2 separate regions of the Homo sapiens genome follow, and region 2 is linked to region 1. A link means that fine-mapping ties the variant in region 1 to the expression of a gene that starts in the linked region. Tissue or cell type: whole blood. Region 1 holds a variant in brackets; the other region holds the start of a gene. All regions are shown on one strand. Distances are between the middles of the regions.

What was found. PIP is the estimated chance that this variant, and not a neighbour inherited with it, causes the effect.
Region 2: ABHD15 starts here. The variant in region 1 is fine-mapped to the expression of ABHD15 in whole blood (TOPMed, PIP above 0.99).

What each region holds. Positions count from the first base shown.
Region 1 is chr17:30,283,555-30,286,310 of GRCh38, reverse strand. BLMH (bleomycin hydrolase) reads left to right here. Exons shown (of 12, transcript NM_000386.4): 6 at 831-923. Among named protein-coding and RNA genes, the nearest start is that of BLMH, 7.0 kb to the left of the region's middle. The variant T/C (reference allele first, on the strand shown) is at 1,315.
Region 2 is chr17:29,565,599-29,568,226 of GRCh38, reverse strand. It overlaps ABHD15 (abhydrolase domain containing 15), which reads left to right and starts at 1,190. Exons shown (of 2, transcript NM_198147.3): 1 at 1,190-2,141. The coding sequence starts at 1,261. It also overlaps a transcript of TP53I13 not described here. RefSeq lists enhancers at 70-119, 2,140-2,249 and silencers at 650-909, 1,000-1,619.

The sequences.
Region 1 (2,756 bases):
CATTGTGTCTTCTCTACATAACCAGTTTTCCCTAGGAGAGTTATAATTCCTACGGGGATGCTGCTTTGCTAGCCAGGCATGGTTTTTGAGAACTGGGAGTTGCCAGAATCTGCTGTCCTAATCCATGAGGCTGAAATTGGATTTTTCATCTCCCTGGGAGAAAGATTACATTTTAAAATCAACTATAGGTGTGTCTCCCCAACATTAGAAGTAGACTATTTTCCACCCTGGAAACGCTGGGGATTCTTATCCAAAGGCTAAAAGATCATTAATAGTACGGCATTTGATTCCATTTGAAGTCAGAGCAACATCCTCTTTAGCACTGTGGTTAAATTTCAGACTCACCTTTATCTTGGTGAAAAAATGAAATGAAAAAATGAAAATTTTATTGGGGGCTGGCATAACCATAGTCATAGTCAGCCGGCAGAGAAGGAAAAATGGACAGCTATTGAAATTCTAAGTAAAAATCTATGAGAGTAACATAGTGGCATAATTATCTTGTCTCCTGCTTTTTCTGAGTGATAGGCATTATGTGATCACATGTTTTCCCCATGCCCAGACACATAAAACACCTTTATGCGATGTTTGCAGAGAAGGAGCAGTTCCGTCTAGTATTTTGGAGGAGTAACTTATGCCTTTTCTCCTTATGGAAAGCATTTTTAGCTATGTGTTTAAGTGGACAAGTTGAAGAAAAACACATTTGCCTTTATGAACTCTGTCATGGGTCTGGCCTGAGTTATACCTCAAAATAGAACTTGCGTTGGTCTATGAGAGTCATTTACAATTGAATTCGGGTAACTGTTGGAGTGCTGAATAAGTTTCTGTCATAGATGAGAGAATTCTGTATACGACTGCGGAACCTGGTACACAGTGGAGCAACCAAAGGAGAAATCTCGGCCACACAGGACGTCATGATGGAGGAGGTAATAACAAAATTTGGATTTTTTTGTGACCCCTCTAAGGAACTCTCAGAATATTCCCATCTGTTAAAGTAATGATTAGGAAGCTTTAGTCATGGCAACGAATGTTTAATTGAATTGAAAATTACTTATTTTACACTGAAAAAACTGAGCTTAAAACTTACTTTGCCTTTTAGTGTAGGACTTGGACTTGGATTTTCTAATTCGTAGTTTAGTGGTCTGTATAATCATTCTTTTATCATTTCATAAATATTAAATACCTTCTATGAGTTTGGCACTGAGGAAACAGATGAGAAAGACATAGTCACTGCTCTTAAAGAGCTCAGTCTCTTGGGAAAAAGAAAACACATCTATAATGATGATAAATCCTATGCTAGATGTGTAAAAACTGATT[T/C]GGTGGTCATAGAGGAGGGAGTGACTAGCTCAGTGAGCTGAAGCTTTCATAGGGAAGATAGCTCTTGAAAGAGTAGTCAGAATTTACCAGGTAGATAACAAGACCATTCTAGGCAAAAGGAATTGTATGAACAGTGCCATAAACAAAGATAGAACCTTCAGGGAATCATGTGGCTGAAACATAACTTTTTTCAGTATGATGGGTAGCAAATTAAGCTAGAAAGGCAGAGATGTAAGGGATGTTGGATCGATGCCAGAACATTTGGCTTCTTTCTGTAGAAATAAAGACGGAGCTATTGATGGTTATATTTGTTAATGTATGTAAAAACATTTTAGAAAATGTAAAAAGCACTAAAATATGAGGTGGTAATATTATTTATGATCAAGACAGTTAAGAAACTTTATTATTAATACTATCCATGTCCAGAATGAATATGCATAAAACTGCAATTGGTTTGAGGAAAGAATAAATGTTTCCGTTTGTCAGCCAGTAGGCCCTTTATTAGGCTTCCTTTCAAGACTGTATGGAGTTAAAATGGCCTACTTTTTTTCACTGCGATGGAAAACACTAATGCTTCACTTGTGTTTTCCTTTAAATCTTAGAGATGCAGCATAGTGGAGCAGTGGAGTGTGTAATCTCTGAAGTCAGGCTATCTGAGCTCTAGTCTTCTCATTACTTTATATCCTGGGACAAGTTCCTTAAGCTCTAAAGGCTCAGTTCATATTTAACATGTCTAGCCTAGTGCTTGGCACAATAGCTGTTTCTTAAGTATTTGTTGAGTGGACGAATGCAGAAATTTCATTTACCAAATGCATTTAAATAATCTCATTTTTATCTCTTAAATTCTTACAGAAGAGAGGCATCTTAGTATAGTAGGAAAAAATAGGCTTTGGAGTCAGACATACATGGGTTTAAATTCTGACTCTTTTACTTAACAGTCTGTGATCCTAGGTAAGTTACTTAACCTGTCTGAGATTCAGTCAGGATCTGAAATATTTTCCTTATTGGATTTTTGGGGAATCAAGGATTAAATGTAAGCATGCAAGGCATAGTGCCTGGCACGTAGCAGGAGTTCTGTAAATGTTACTTCTTCCCTTCTTGCTTGGAATGACTGTCTTGCAGAGGCTATATCTGCTACATAATTTGCCTTTATTTAGGGTTAGATTAAGATGGTGGGGGCCAGGCACGGTGGCTCATGCCTGCAGTCTCAGCACTTTGGGAGGCCAAGGTGGGCGGATCATAAGGTCAGGAGATCAAGACCATCCTGACCAACATGGTGAAACCCCGTCTCTACTAAAATACAAATAATTAGCTGGGCGTGGTGGTATGCGCCTGTAGTCCCAGCTACTCGGGAGGCTGAGGCAGGGGAATCACTTGAACCCAGGAGGCAGAGCTTGCAGTGAGCCGAGATTGTGCCACTGTACTCCAGCCTGGTGACAGAG
Region 2 (2,628 bases), 720 kb after region 1:
GAGAGGGTCCCACCTCTGGAGCTTCGCCGTCGGCCCACCCCGCTCCCGCCCTCGCAAATAGGGTCCAACGCGGAGGAGCCTCGGGAGGTGTCTCCGCTCCCCAAACTCTCCAAACCCAGAAGCCCCGGGAGGCCGGAGCTAGCCGAGAGGCTGCTGTCTTCCCCACCTCCGCCGTCGCCCAGCGGTGGCAGGCGCGCGTCTAGAAAGAGATTGGTCGCCGCGAGATGGGGACGCCACAGGCCTCACCCCCAGGAGGTGCGCTGGCCGGCCCGCCCCGCAGCGGGGCGCTGGTTCTGGTTCCCTCTCCAGGATTTGGGGGGGAAACGTGGGTAGAGAGCGAGGGTCGAGATGCCTATCCCAAAGCTTGGAAACAGCGAGAACGTGTTATTTCCGTGGTCTCCCATGCACCCCGGTTTACGAGGCGTTCCTTGTAGGTCGGACGGGCATCCCTGTCGCAGGGCGCCTGAGTGTGTCCTTTTCTCCGACTGACTCTCGGAGGCTTGGGGCTGCTGTTTCTGGGGAAGCCACTCCCGGGCTGAGGATTTCCTTGATGTGGAGCCCCGAGCTCGCGGGGACGGGGGCGAGGAGTCCACGGGACCCGCACTGATGCAGGCGGGGAAGCAGCAGCCTCCCGCCAGCGGCTCAAGACGCCGCGCTCGACCTCTCTAGCCCAGTGCCGGACCCCGCCCAGCCAAGTTATTGCGGGGTTGCGGGGCCGGGCGGGGGAGAGCAGGGCCGCCCGAGGGCAGAGCGCGCGCGCGGCCGCCGCCCCACGGGGTCCCGGGAGCCGGCGCCCGGAGCTGCGACTTACTCACCTCTCCCTTCTGCTTCTTTTCATCGGCCTCTGAGGGCGCAGCGCCCAGGGTCTGGCGGAAGACCCTGATGACAGTCGGGTCCCCAAGCCTCGGCCTCCAGTCTCCCCACGTCTCCATGGCCAACACCGCTCTCCCCGGCTCGTGCCCTCCCCACTCCCTTCCGGCTGCCGGCGCGCCCTCCCTCCCTGGTGGCCCCGGCTCCTCTCACCCTCTGCTCCCACTTGTTGCAATTGCTGTACAAAGGGCCGGGGCGGGGGTGGGGGGCGGGCGAGGGCAGCCGGGCCCGAACTGGCTGCCTCTGCCCGGCCACGGCCAATCCAGAGCGCGCCCGCGCGGGAGGGCCCTGGGCAGCCGCCGCCGGCGGGCGGAGCCGCGGGCAAAGCGCGGAGCTCGCCGAGTAGACGGCCCCGCCGCCCGCTGCCCGCCGGGGCTCTCCAGCTTCGCCATGCCGCCGTGGGGCGCCGCCCTCGCGCTCATCTTGGCCGTGCTCGCCCTTCTCGGCCTGCTCGGCCCGCGGCTCCGGGGACCCTGGGGGCGCGCCGTCGGAGAGAGGACCCTGCCGGGGGCCCAAGACCGAGACGACGGGGAGGAGGCGGACGGCGGAGGCCCGGCGGACCAGTTCAGCGACGGGCGCGAGCCACTGCCGGGAGGGTGCAGCCTTGTTTGCAAGCCGTCGGCCCTGGCCCAGTGCCTGCTGCGCGCCCTGCGGCGCTCAGAGGCGCTGGAGGCCGGCCCGCGCTCCTGGTTCTCCGGGCCCCACCTGCAGACCCTCTGCCACTTCGTCCTGCCCGTAGCGCCTGGGCCTGAGCTGGCCCGGGAGTACCTGCAGTTGGCGGACGATGGGCTAGTGGCCCTGGACTGGGTGGTAGGACCTTGTGTTCGGGGCCGCCGGATCACCAGCGCCGGGGGCCTTCCTGCGGTGCTTCTGGTGATCCCCAATGCGTGGGGTCGCCTCACCCGCAACGTGCTCGGCCTTTGCTTGCTCGCCCTGGAGCGCGGCTACTACCCGGTCATCTTCCATCGCCGCGGCCACCACGGTTGCCCACTGGTCAGCCCCCGGCTGCAGCCTTTCGGGGACCCGTCCGACCTCAAGGAGGCGGTCACATACATCCGCTTCCGACACCCGGCGGCGCCGCTGTTCGCGGTGAGCGAAGGCTCGGGCTCGGCGCTGCTCCTGTCCTACCTGGGCGAGTGCGGCTCCTCCAGCTACGTGACAGGCGCCGCCTGCATCTCGCCCGTGCTGCGCTGCCGAGAGTGGTTCGAGGCCGGCCTGCCCTGGCCCTACGAGCGGGGCTTTCTGCTCCACCAGAAGATCGCCCTCAGCAGGTGGGTAACGGAGGCCGCAGACCAGCATGGAAAGAATAGAGGGCCTGAGCTGGCTAAGAATCAGAAACAGCTATGCATAGCATTGGAACAGGCGTGGGCCAGTTTGGGCAAAGTTCTCTGAACACATCTTCCAAAGCCTTCCAAACCCTGTAATCTAGACAGAACCGGGGAAGCGGGTTTAAAGGTCATCGATGGACTCAGCTAGTATCGCTGTGCTAGAGCAGGGACTCCTAACCCGGCCCCTTGCCTCATCTCGGCACCCCCTGCTGTATCCTAGCAATCTGAGCACCTGGCCCACGACAGCAGAGATACCTGACATTTACCACTTAGCCCACAGCTTAACAGCTCAGCAAAGAGCACTCTGGAAGCAATTGCAAACGATTATCTGCCCAGAATGTTTACTCACAGTCTCTGAGCCTGGAGGTGACAGGAATCAGAAATATGGTGGCATTTGAGGCCAGGTGCAGTGGCTCCCGCCTGTAATCCC